2 linked regions of the Homo sapiens genome follow. The protein of the gene in region 1 purifies or fractionates together with the protein of each later gene. This does not show direct contact. Each region holds a gene or a part of one and is shown on either strand. Other genes may lie near its edges.

Region 1 (7,027 bases):
ATGGTACAGACCACATACATGGAGCTGTCCCAGTCCGTTTGGGTTGCTATAATAAGATACCTTAGAGTGAGCAATTTACAAACAACAGAATTGACTGCTCATAGTTCTGGAGGCTGGTAAGTCCAAGATCAATGTGTCAACAGAGTTGGTCTGGTTGGGGCCTGCTGTCTCATAGATGGCACCTCTTACATGTCCTCATATGGTAGAAGGTGAACACAGGCTCCCTCAAGCCTCTTTTATGAGGACATTAATTGCCTTGTAAAGACCCCACCTCTTAACACTATCTCACTGGGTATTAGGTTCCAATGTATGAATTTTACGGGGGGACACCAACATTTAGGCCTTAACAGGTACCTCCGTGAGGGCATGAGGACCTGGGGTCTCTGAGCAGTAACAAGTGCCCTGTTTCAGGCATCTGTGTGCTTCGAGGATGTGGCTATGGCATTCACACAGGAGGAGTGGGAACAGCTGGACCTGGCCCAGAGGACACTGTACCGAGAGGTGACACTGGAGACCTGGGAGCATATTGTCTCCCTGGGTAAGTGGCTGTGCTCATGGAAGGAGGTTCTACCCCTAGGACTCAAAGCTGTACCAAGTTCTGAAGGGTGTTCTGGGATGTGCTGGAAGATACTGGAAGCAGGTCCCTTTCAGGTGCAGTTCCCAGGGGTTGCCCTTCATTCTATCTCTGGGACAGGTTTGTGACTTGTAGTCCTAACAGTGGGGAGTTTCCTCGGGACAGCACTAGGGGCTGAAGCTTGGACCCAGGACATGGTTCTTGGTGTCCAAGCAGAGGGGCAAGTCCTTTTTCCGTCTTTGACCAGGGCTTTTCCTTTCCAAATCTGATGTGATCTCTCAGCTGGAGCAAGAAGAGGACCTGTGCAGGGCAGAGCAGGAGGCCCCCCGAGGTAAGAGCAGACCTTGTGGTGAGCAGCTCAACGTTTAACAAGCTTGGACAGAGAGCTCTCCGCAGGGCCCCAGGGGCCAAGGAGGGAGCCTTGTTTGGAGGAAGCCTCCTTGGGTGCTCTTTGCAGCAGTTCACCCATTCAAAGGAGTTCACCAATTCGAAGTATGCAGTTCATGGCTTCCAGTGTCTTCCCTGAGTGTGGAACCCTCACCACAATCAGTTCTAGAACATGTTCATCATCCCAACCATTTAGGCCTCTTTACTTGATTTGTTTTTTTTTAATTAATGTATGTATTTATTTATTTATTTTGAGATAGGGTTTTACTCTGTTGCCCAGGCTGAAGTGCAGTGGCGCTGTCTTGGCTCACTATAGCCCCCATCTCCCTGGCTCAAGCAATTCTCATGCGTCAGCCTCCCTAGTAGCTTGGACTACAGGTGCACACTGCCACACCTGGCTAATTCTTTTGTTTTTGTTTTTGTTTTTTAAGACGGAGTTTCGCTCTTGTTGCCCAGACTGGAGTGCAATGGCACAATCTCGGCTCACCACAACCTCCACCTCCCAGGTTCAAGTGATTCTCCTGCCTCAGCCTCCCAAGTAGCTGGGATTACAGGCATGTCCACCATGCCCGGCTAATTTTTTGTATTTTTAGTGGAGACAGAGTTTCACCGTGTTAGCCAGGATGGTCTTGATCTCCTGACCTCATGATCCGCCCGCCTCAGCCTCCCAAAGTGCTGAGATTACAGGTGTGAGCCATCACGCCTGGCCCTAATTTTGTATTTTTATTAGAGGTGGGGTTTCTCCATGTTGGTCAGGCTGGTCTCGAACTCCCGACCTCAGGTGATCCACCTGCCTCAGCCTCCCAAAGTGCCGGGATTACAGGTATGAGCCACTGCACCTGGCCATTAATTTTTGTATTTTTAATGGAGATAGGGTTTCATCATGTTGCCCAGGCTAATAGACTTTATTTTTTAGAGCAGTTTTAGGTTTATAGGTAAGTTGACGAGAAAGTGCAGAGTTCCCACCCATGTCTGCTGTCCTACAGACACATGCAGTGTCTCCTGCTGTTAACAACTTGGATTTGTATTGTACATCTGTTACAATCGGCAAACCTATCTTGAGGCATCCTTTTTTTTTTTCCCAGACAGAGTCTCACTCTGTCACCAGGCTGGCGTACAGTGGTGTGATCTCAGCTCACTGCAACCTCCGCCCCCCAGGTTCAAGTGATTTTCCTGCCTCAACCTCCCAACTAACTGGGACTACAGGCACGCACCACCACGCCCAGCTAATTTTTGTATTTTTAGTAGAGTCAGAGTTTCACCATGTTGGCCAGGATGGTCTCGATCTCCTGACCTCATGATGCGCCCCCCTCAGCCTCCCAAAGTGCTGGGATTACAGGCGTGAGCCACTACCCCTTGCCCTTGAGGCATCATTATCACCCAAAGTCCATAGTTTATGATAGGGTTCATGCTTTTTTTTTTCTTTTTTTTTTTTTTTTTTTGAGACAGTGATGCAGTCATAGCTTAAGCCTTCTGGGCTTAAGTGATCCTCCCACCTCTCTGCACCCCAGCCTCAGGTGCCACAGCATGCACCACCATGCCTGGCTAATGTAAAAATTTTTTGTAGAGATGGAGTGTCACTGTGTTGCCCAGGCTTGTCTTGAACTCCTGGGCTCAAGTGATCCTCCCACCTCAGCCTCCCAAAGTGCTGGGATTACATGTATGAGCCACTGCACCTGGCCAGGCTTCACTCCTGATGTTGTATATTCTGTGCATTTGGACAAATGTACAATGTCATGTATCCACCATTATAGTATCAGACAGAGTAGTTCCACTACCCTAAATATTCTCTGTGCTCTACCCATTCATCCCTCCCTCATCCCCAGCCCCTGGTGTTACTGGTGGAGGATGTGCAGGTTCTTGGCATTTTGAACAAAGAATTGGACAAAATGCATAAAACAATGAAAGAATGAAGCAAAAAAAGCATAGATTTATCAAAATGAAAGTACACTCCACACAATGGGAGTGGTCTGGAGCAAGCAGCTCAAGAGCACTGGTTACAGAATTTTCTGGGGTTTAAATCCCGAGAGGTTTCCCATTGGTTACTTGGTTTATATCCTCTGTAAATGAAGTAGTGGCCCATAACTAGTCTGATTGGTTGGGGAAGGTGACCAACAGAGGCTGAAGTGAAGTTACAAAGTTACACCTCTATGCAGATGAAAACTAGGCCAGTGACCAGTCTCATTGGTTGCAGGAAGAGGTACTTTCCATTTTTCATCTGCGACACAGAAGGCGGGGGTTGCCTCTGATCCTTTTGTTATTTGGGGCATGGAAAGTTTGGGTTTTCCTTTTGATTCAGTTCCAGGAAGTCAGCATTAATCACCCTTAGGTTTCTTGCCTCCATACCCTGTTCTCATACCTCATTTCCCCCCGAAAGACATGATCCTCATAAATCTTTATGGGAGGTAAAGGGATTGATAGTCTTTCTTCTGTAACTGCTTTATGCTGACCTGAGGCACAGTCCCTACGTACTGGGGAATCACAGGACTCTCTCCCCGCCCTGTCTAGTGGAGACAGGATAGCTTCTTGATGGCCAGGGGTGGTGTCTCCACCTGGAACTGGCTGGAAACATTGTCACATGATCATCTGAAGCTTGATGGTCTCTAGGTGACAGGAAATGAATTTGGTTAAGAGTTTAACAAACATGGTCCAAAAACCAAGGCAAGTATAGTCATTACTAATGGGCTGGCCAGAGGAAGGAGCCATGAACCCCAACTTAGCATTTTTGACCAGGAGCCCCATGACTCAGATAGCTGTTGTTGTATTTTAGAGGCCCAGTTGGGTAGTTTTTGGGTGGCATTTGTTACTAATCCTCATTGTTCGGCATAAAAACAGCATTCTTCCTCTAGAAAAAGACCTAAGCCCCCCTTTACAGCAGTTAGGAGATCTCATCCCCTTCTGTTTTGCCAAGCAACTGCTGCTGAGGCATCTATTTGATTTCGTATGGTGATGATACTTTGGCCAATGTCTCTATTTTTTCTTTTTTACTTTGGGCAATGTCATTCAAGCTTTCCATAAAATCCTTGGAAAAGCATTGGTAATAGGATAGGGATGTTACAACCCGGCTGACTCCCATTCCCAGTCCCGCGGTTATTTGTAGTCCTACCAAAAGGGATGTGAGTTGGATGGTTCATTTGTGTCTGGCAATTGCAGTTAAAGGTATAATGAGGGATTGGTTCTTGGGAGCTATATTAATTTCACAGGCTAAATAAACAAGTGTAAAGGTTCTAGTCCAATTGGCTGGTAAACATAAGTAAGAACTAGTTCCACACAGGTAAAAGGCTCCTAGTTTTTCAAGACAAGAATTTTCTATGGTAAACATGTGGGTTAGCTTGTTGTTTTCACTTTCCCAAGTGGTTAAGGTCCCTATGAAGGTGGCCCCAGTTAAAGGCTGGAAAGGACCTTGGGAAATATTCTGAGTTGCCCCAGCAGTTCTGTTTTCCCATTGGAGGTAATTAGGCTTAGTGTCTACCAACAAGCATCCAGAGGTGTTTCGTACTGGGGAACCAAAAGATAACTAGATGTCTGAGGATTAGTGCAGTCTTCCCAAGGGAAAATATGATCATAGCTAGTGGGCTTACCTTGGCAGTACTTAGACTGTGTATCCTTTGAAGTGTCCTTATCTAGGGATGGTTTCCATGAAAACCATACAGGTTTTCTAAATGACACAGTCTGGGTAACTGCCTAGCTTATGTAATCATGTGAGGGGTTAATAATCTCTAGGGTGTAGTTACACTGATGACTTTTCAAGGTTCCCAGGGCCTGACCAAAATTTTGGCTTCTCTTAATACAAAGTGGCACCTGGAATTTTAGCTCTGTGTACATTGATATTGGGCCCCAAATGGGTTTCTGTGGGATGCAACCCCAGAAAGGGTACTCTGATAGTACTGGAGAAGGTTTACTGCTTGTCCTGTCATCGTAGTTCATGTTTTTTTCCCCAAGGCCAAAGATTGGGCTGGGATTGGGGTGGTAGTGTATTTGAATGATGCTGGAGATAACCAAAGCCAACAGTCTTTGCCAGAGCTGGGCTGGTGGTATTTAACTGTCTTTGAGTTAAATGTAAAGTTTTTAATAAATACCCAGAATCCATTAACTGCTGGAGGGGTAAAGTGAAGCTCTGTTGTAAAATAAAGCTGATTCCCATTATGCGTGGTCCTGTATACACAGGCTGTGGGTGACCATTATGGAACCAAAAAATACTTATTTGTTATTTTGTGCTATAGAATAGGAACTTCAGGGGTGGATACCTATGCTGTCAGGAATGCTTGTTATAAGAATTAATTAAAACACTTTGCTTAATTATTACAAAGGAAGTTATTCCATTTGTTTAGAAGAAAGCAATTAAATTGTAGAAGTATAACAATGGCTACTATTATCCAGTTTAAAGTAACTAAGCAACAAAGACACCAAGGAAAGTTGGTAGGCTTTTACTTATCTTTTGGCTGTCTTTTAAACAGGTACTTCAGGTCTTTCACAAGTCACAGGTGTAGTGGCTGATGGGAGCTTCAGGTTCCCGGTCTGGGACTTCACATAACACAGGCTTGACACCAGAAAGATGTATCCAACTATCTAATCCTAGTACTTTGACCCCAGAAGGCATGGCCAGTACTGAAAATGGTCCCTTCCACTTTGATTGTAATTATTGAGCAGGTGATCCCTCCTTCTATGTTTTAACAGGTACCTTGTCTGTTGGCCTGATTTTGGGTTGGTGGTTAGTTCCTGGTGTGGGGAGCTTTTGAGTTCCAAACTCTTGTAAAGCCTGCTGAAATAATCCCAGGTTAACTAGGTATTTTACTAAACTGGATGTTTCTGGATCAGAGATTAGATCATTAGTTAAAAATGGCCTTTTGTATAACATTTGTGTGGGCTCATAATAATTTTTTCTCTAGGGGAATTATGGATTCTTAAGAGGGCTATGGGCAGTAAGCAGATCCAAGTTTCTGATGTTTCCTGACATAGGAACTCCTATTTTAGAGTTAGCTAAGCTCTTTCCACTTTTTTGGAGGATTGAGGTCTCCATGCTGAATGTAAATAATAGTTGATTCTGAGAACCTTAGCAACCCCTTGAGTTATTTGGGAGACAAAAGATGGGCTGTTATCACTTTGGAGGCTTTGAGGTAACCCAAACCAGGGGATTATTTCCTTTAAGAGAACCTTTATAACTTCATTAAACTTCTCTGTTCTGGTAGGGTACACTTCAACCCAGCCAATAAAGGTGTCTGTTAGTACTGGCAGAAACTTTTATCCTTTGCAAGCTGGCATATCAGTGAGGTCTAATTGCCAGTCTTCCCCTTTAACTTTAGCCAATATATTCACACACAGAATCCCTTCTACAATTAATTTTTCATAAACCTTCTACAGCTTGTCTTTTAACCCTCCAAACTTTGGCAAGAAATCCATATTCTCATGCCTTTTACCAAAAGTACATTCTACTTTTTTTACATGAATCCTTTTCACGACTTACACAGACCTTCTATGACATGCCTGGACTTTCTGACTTGTCCTAAACATCCCTCTTTAAACAACCATTCATTTAACTTTAGGGCAAGAATTTACCATACAGGATCCTGTCTCATACAAAATTATTATTGCTACATCCTTCCCTACCAAGAATACATCTTCATATACATAACTTTCTTCACCTCTCTCTCCCGTACTTACTGGTTTCTTACTACCTTGTTTCATAAATAACCCTTTTTTTTAAGTCAACAACCTGAATCAACCTTTAGACAACCTCTGAACTACACAAAATCATTTCTTTCTTACCAATAGCACATCTTTTTTGGCACCTTTTGTATACAGAATCATTTGTTAACTAGAATTCTTATCCTTAGTAACCTTAAATTTTAGTGAAACCCTAAAAAGCAAGAAATCCTGAACTATTAGATATGAGCATTTTATAGATGAGAAGAATTCCACAACTTTTAGAAACATATTTCCCCGTATCATAATCCTTCCTTTTTATTTACTTATTATCATTATGTTTTTGAGACGGAGTCTTGCTCTGTCACCAGGCTAGAGTGCAGTGGCACAATCTCGGCTCACTGCAACCTCTGACTCCCTGGT
Region 2 (7,027 bases), on another chromosome or scaffold:
ACTATAGGTTTCTGGTGTGATTATCTGTATAGGTAACCTGTTTTGCCTAAGTAGAGACTGTAGGAAGAGAATCAGGTTGGGTAGGGAATCTGATGCATAAAAGTGGAGATCAGTTAGAATGCTATTGCAGTAATCCAGAGAAGTAATGAAGCAGTAACAGTGAGCCCAGGAAGAAGGGAAATTGATGAATTTATGTGATATTTAGGACAGTAAATCATCATCCTTTGGAACCATTTGAATGTGGTGGCTAAGGAAAATAGCATAGTCTGAAGTTCACTGTTGGGTTTCTATGATTTGGCAACTGGGCAGATGATGATGCCTTTCATTGATAAGAAATATGGGGAGAGGAGCAGGTTTGGTCAGGGTAATAGAATTCAGTTTGGGGTGTGTTCAGTTTGTGATGTAAGAGAGAAATATAATGATTTTTAACTTGTGGATTATCATGTTATGAGCCAGATACATTCCATAGTGTTTGGAAGAGATCCAAGTAGGGTTAGAAATATGGTGCCAGAGCAAGAGAGGGGGTCTGGCCTAAATGTATAGATTTTTCAGCATGTAGGTTGTATCTATAGCATTCGGTGAGCCTGAAATCATTCAGTGAGACCCTAGAATGAAAAGAAGACTGAGGATGGGTAACCACTGGTGTGCCATAATCCAGATGATGACTTCCTGTTAAAGTCCAAGTGAAAGATGCAGATGCCTTACTACAGTGTCCCACAAGACTGTACATGATCTCTTAACTGCTATTGCTCTGACTTTACTAATCTTCTTGTTCACTGGGCTTTAGCCACCCTGGCCTTCTGTTTCTCAGACAGTAAAATGCTCTTCCCTCGAATGCTCATAGTCCCTTCTGTGTGGCATGCTATGTTTTCTCAGAAGTTTTATTGCTGGCTCTTTGTATTATTGAGGTCCCAACTCAAATATCACTTCCTCAGAGAGGCCTTCCACAACCATTGAATCTAAAACAGCTATCCAATCACTATTCCTCATTTTCCTCATTAGTTGCCTAATTTTCTTTTTTTGTTGTTGTTAATTTTTGGCTTTTTAATTAATTATTTTTAGAGCCAGGATCTTGCTCTGTCACCTAGAGTGGAGTGCAGTGGCATAGTCATAGCTCACTGTGACCTCCAACTCTTGAGCTCAAGTGATCCTCCCTCCTCAGCCTCCCAGTAGCTAGGACTGTAGGCGCATACCACCACGCCTGACTGGTTTTTTTTTTTATTTTGTGTAGAGACAGGGCCTCACTATGTTGCCAACCTGGTCTCAAACTTCTGGTCTCAAACGATTGATCCTCTTGCCTTGGCCTCCCAGATCACTGGGATTACAGAGTGAGCCACCATGCCCTGACCGCAGCTTTATTTTCCTTATATTCTCTTTCCAGTGGTGTGCTACAGCAGTCTTCTATTGGCTTGCAAGAGCTGATTGTTAAATTTTCATGAAGTTTGTGAGCCCATTCTTAAAACACAGCCATTATTAAAAATTAAATAGCCGGGCGCTGTGGCTTACGCCTGTAATCCCAGCACTTTGGGAGGCCAAAGCAGGCGGATCACCTGAGGTCGGGAGCTCGCGACCAGCCTGACCAACATCGAGAAACCCCGTCTCTACTAAAAACACAAAATTAGCTGGGCATGGTGGCACATGCCTGTAATCCCAGCTACTCGGGAGGCTGAGGCAGGAGAATCGCTTGAACCCGGGAGGTGGAAGTTGCAGTGAGCCGAGATTGCGCCATTGCACTCCAGCCTGGGCAACAAGAGTGAAACTCTGTCTCAAAAAAAAAAATTAAATATTAAATTATGTAAATTTACGATTAAATCCTGTTTTTAAAAAAGGTAATAAATACTGATAACTTAACATTTTCTCATTATTGTACTATTACCTGTGCTCTTGAGATTATTTGTCTATCGTGCTGGAAGGTGGAGATCCTGTATCCTGTATAACTGTGTGCTACTGCTCATTTCTCCCCAGCTTTGCGTTTGCTGGGGTCAGATTGGAAGCTTTAAATCTGCCCTGGTGGGAGCGTATATCCCACAAAAATTGACAAATGCTATAACTCAGAGCTCTCCCATATCAAGCGTTAAATGGTTAAACATTGACCAACATACTACTGGTGGTATCACTAAATGAATTTACCTTGTTTATTTGTTGTCTGTCTTTCCATAAGGACACGTAGGCTCTCAGTGCAGTCCCTGCCTGCCTTGTTCATGCTGTATTCACAGCCTGTAAAACAGTGCCTGGTACACTGTGAGCTCTCAGTCACTATCTGTTGAATGAGTGGATCCTCCAGAGCAGTTAAAAGGGAGGTATAAGAAAGGCCTATTTCACTAGCAGTAGGGAGAGGCCTGCTCTACTAAGTAAGATGGGGGAGAGATAGTTCCCCTAAGGCTTACTTGGGTTCTTCTTTGTGTTATGTTCCTGAGTGAGTAGCCATGTAAATTTACTTACTTAATGATAGTAAAAACTTCTCAAGCATGGTATAGGGAAGGCCAATTAATGAGCAGGAACACTCAACCCTAGCTGCACATAGGAATCACTTGGAGTATTTTTAAAAAGAATTTGGACAGCTGAGCAGCACTCACAGACCAAATTAATCAGAAATCTCTACAGGTGGAACCTGGATATCAGTATTTATTTTGAAGTGCCCCCAGGTTATTTTAATGTGCAGCCTGAGTTTAAAACCACTGGATTCGGCCGGGCGCGTTGGCTCACGCCTGTAATCCCAGCACTTTGGGAGGCCTAGGCAGGTGGATCACGAGGTCAGGAGATCCAGACCATCCTGGCTAACACGGTGAAACCTCGTCTCTACTATAAATACAAAAAATTAGCCGGGCATGGTGGCGGGCGCCTGTAGTCCCAGCCGCTCGGCAGGCTGAGGCAGAATGGCGTGAACCCGGGAGGCGGAGCTTGCAGTGAGCTGAGATCGTGCCACTGCACTCCAGCCTGGGCAACAGAGAGAGACTCCATCTCAAAAAAAAAAACCACTGGATTCGACATCGGGTAAGGGCCAGAATGGGGAGATTTGAGCCTTATACTGTGAATACTGAGGAGCCATCATCGATAGGGTTCAAAAAGTGACTTCATTCTGTAATTTATTTTTTCATTCTACAGTGGCTTGAGTTCATACTAGAAACTGGGAGTACAGAAATGTATAGGACACCTTATCTACCAGATAAGAAGTTCACAGTCTTGTAAGGGAGGCACCAAATACGAGTTTAATGAAGTGTTTTAGAGACCATCTTGAAAATCCGATTATTGAGGGTTCAGTGAAGACTGAAAGGAAAGGATGACCTGTTCAATCTAGGTAAAGGGGAGAACCAGAATATGGGACACAGAAGAGGTAAACACAAGCTCTGGTTGATGGCTAAATATTTCCCAGGTGAACAGTGCGGAAGGAGCATTTGTAAATGCCCCTCTCAATAACTGGTACCACCATCCACCTTGTTCTTCATAAAAGAGACTGTCTCTCTCTTGATCACCACTATATCCTCAGCACATACCACAGTGTCAAGCACATAGGCATTCAGATATTTGAGAATGAATGCTATTCTGTAGAGGGAGCAACTTGAATCAGAGATCTGGGAACACGTAGTGTGTTTAGGGAACTGCAGGTCTTGGCATAGCTGGACTATTGGATTAAGAGGAATGGTCATGAGGCAGGAGGTGGGGGGTCATGAAGAGCCTGGGGTCATATGCTAAGACAGGTGGACTTGATGTAAGTCCACCTTGCAAGTAACAGAACCACGGAAGGATTGTAGATGATCGTATTTGGCAAGCTTTTTCAAAGTATACATGCCTGCTAGTTTCCCTTAGGGGTTCTTATCCTGAAGACTCCCTCGCTCCCATACATGTCTGTGTTTATATATGTACAGTTGACCTTTGAACAACGTGGGAGTTGGGGGCACCAACCCTCTGCACAGTCGAAAATTCACAATAACTCTTGACTCTCCAAAAGTTTCATTAGTAGTAACCTACTGTTGACCTAGCTGATAACATAAGCAATTCATTAAGGCTTATTTTATATGTTATGTGTATTATGTACTGTATTCTTAATAAAGTATGCTAGAGAAAAGAAAATGTTACTAAGAAAATCATAAGAGAAAATATATTTACTATTCATCAAGTGGGAGTGGATCGTCATTAATCCACTTCATCCTCATCACTTCACATCGAGTAGGCTGAGGAGGAGGAGGAAGAGGAGGGGTTGGATTTGCCCTCTCAGGAGTGGCAGAAGCAGAAAATCCTCATATAGGCCAGGCGTGGTGGTTCACGCCTGTAATCCAGCGCTTTGGGAGGCCAAGGTGGGAAGATAATTTGAGCTCAGGAGTTTCAGACCAGCTTGGGCAACATAGCAAGACCCCCGTCTCTATTGAAAAAAAAAAAAACTTAAATGTAAAAATCCTCATGTAAGTAGACCTGTGCAGTTCAAATGTGTGTTGTTTAAGGGTCAGCTATATATACGTATAAACACACACACAAACACACACAGAGTCACATGATGCATAACAACGTTTTAGTCAGTATATGATGGTGGTCCCATAAGATTATAATATCGTATTTTTGCTGTATCTTTTTTGTGTTTATATGTGTAAATTTGTACCATTGTGTTACAATCACTTATAGCATTCAGTACAGTAACATGCTGTACAGGTTTGTAGCCTAGGAGCAATAGGCTAACCACTATACTATATATAGCCTAGGTATGTAGTAGGCTATACCATCTGAGTTTGTGTAAACACACTCTGTGATGTTTGTACAATGATGAAATTGCCTACCAATGCATTTCTCAGAGTGTATCTCTGTTGTTAAACAGTGCATGACTGTATATGTGTATACATATATCCCCAGCTGATTCTGATCCTTTTCTCCTTCCACTCCCAGGACCACTAAATGGGAAGTTCTTGTTTTTAAGCCCTAAAATGATATAATGGTAGTTGGCTGCAGTCTATAGAGCGCAAACTGATACAACTATATATTTATTAATGAGAAATGTGGGATTTGAGAAGGTTTTCCAGCCTTATAAGCAAGAGTATTTATTACAAGGGTTGCAACTTTACATGAGAACTCCAACAGTGAAAAGACCTTTCCTTCATATAGTCTCTCTATATATGGACATAAAAATGTTCATGTTTGTATGTTTCACCTGCCACCCTTTTATAAACTCCTCATAAATGCTATTTGCTGCCACTTATATTCTTATGCCAAATTGTGGTCTCAGTTAACATTCTGTATTTTCTTCTATTACCTCAACATTTCATCTTTCAGTTATTGAGTTCAGTTATTGACCAATTATGCTATATTCCAAATAAAACCAGATGTTGGAAATACAAAGAGAAAATGAACTTTCCTACCTTCGAGATAATTTCATTTTAGTAGGGAGACAGACATGCATACAATTACAGTGTTGTGGGATACATACCATAATAGGTGTAGTTAGTGGGAAAAGAAGTGACAGGGAAAATATGAATGATTCCATTCGGGACTCTGGGAGAGCTTTCATAGAGGAGTGGTGCCTAAGCCTCTAAAGCATTTAGAATGCGCCTAACACTTTAGTGTCAGCACATATGACAAGTGTCCTGACTCTTTGTAAGCAGTTATACGTGTTAGCTTTAATTATTATCATTACTACTACTTTTGTAATCAGAAAAGTACTTTTTAAAAAATTAACAAATCAGAAGTCATTGGTAGACGTGTAAAGAGCAGTTTCAGGGGCTGGTTGGATAGAAGCTGAATGGCAGGGGCTGAATAAGAAATAAAAAATTTGTCACAGGCCAGGCACAATAGCTCACACCTGTAATCCCAGCACTTTGGGAGACCAAGGTGGGAGGATTGCTTGAGCCAGGAGTTTGAGACCAGCCTGGGCAACAGAGCAAGACTGTACCTCTTTATTATTATTATTATTATTATTATTATTTTATTTTGTAGAGATGGGGTCTTGCTATGTTGCCCAGGCTGGTCTTGAATGCCCGGCTTCAAGCAATCCTGCTTGAAGTGTGGAGGATTGAGATTAGCCTCCCAAAGTGCTGGAATTACAGGCATGAGCCACCATGCCCAGCCAAGACTGTCTCTACAAAAAAAATTAAGAATTAACTGGGCTTGGTGGTATGCACTTGTAATCCTAGCTACTCGAGAGGCTGAGGCAGGAGGGAGGATTGCTTTAGGAGTTCAAGGCTGTAGTGAGCTATATAATGGTGGCACTGTACTCCAGCCTGAGCAAGAGAATAAGCTCTTGTCTCGAAAAGAAGAAAAGAAAGTTATCACAGCCATATACTGCTCAACAGTACCTTTTATTGGAGCGCTTGTTTCTTGAATGATTTTTCCTTTTATTTGCACCCATATAGTTTTGTTTTATTTTATATAATTTGGGTTTCAAATGTTTGTTTTAATGTAATTTTTAAAGCTAAGTAGAGGCAAATGGAACAGGTTTGTCAGTGTGGCAGGTGAAACCATGTGAAGTTGATCAGATTACTCTAGGGCTTAATGTCTCATCTTTGCTGTCTTCATTAAATTTCCCAAAGAGATACTGACAATGATAGCAATCAGAAATATAATAAAATATTATGATAACTCAGTATCAATTTATTGATCCTAATTTTCTTTACATCTCTTTTTTTTACTATATGAAAATCTAACATCAGAACACTCTGCTCCTGTTCACGTCATAGAGTAATATTTTGTCAAAGATGAAACCTTACCAATGTAGTCTTTAATCTGTCCTGATTTATTTTACAGTATGTGCTCATTACTTTCTTGCCTTATCCACAGAAGGAGCTCAAAAAGTGGGATGAGTTTGAAGATATTTTAGAAGAGAGGAGGCATGTCAGTGACTTGAAATTTGCAATGAAATGCTACACACCTCTTGTCTATAAGGGAATTACTCCATGTAAACCAATTGATATTAAATGTAGTGTTCTCAATTCTGAGGAGATTCATTATGTCATTAAACAGGTAAGTGATTCCCTCTTCAACCATGGCCAGATTTGTTCATTGTCAACAAGTTCTTAATTCTATAACTTATTTTGCTACTTTAATA

The links. The genes of interacting proteins can lie anywhere in the genome.
Region 2: the proteins of ZNF544 (region 1) and GNPAT purify together in Homo sapiens (affinity purification with mass spectrometry; 2 studies listed by BioGRID and IntAct, with this or other methods). This does not show direct contact.

Annotation. Positions count from the first base shown.
Region 1 is NC_000019.10:58,245,890-58,252,916, forward strand, and holds part of ZNF544 (zinc finger protein 544), read left to right. Parts: intron 1-411; coding exon 412-538; intron 539-821; coding exon 822-905; coding exon of another isoform or gene 906-943; exon of another isoform or gene 944-1,152; intron 1,153-1,392; coding exon of another isoform or gene 1,393-1,538; exon of another isoform or gene 1,539-5,266; intron 5,267-7,027. UniProt on the Homo sapiens protein: May be involved in transcriptional regulation.
Region 2 is NC_000001.11:231,244,202-231,251,228, forward strand, and holds part of GNPAT (dihydroxyacetone phosphate acyltransferase), read left to right. Parts: intron 1-6,759; coding exon 6,760-6,942; intron 6,943-7,027. UniProt on the Homo sapiens protein: Dihydroxyacetonephosphate acyltransferase catalyzing the first step in the biosynthesis of plasmalogens, a subset of phospholipids that differ from other glycerolipids by having an alkyl chain attached through a vinyl ether linkage at the sn-1 position of the glycerol backbone, and which unique physical properties have an impact on various aspects of cell signaling and membrane biology.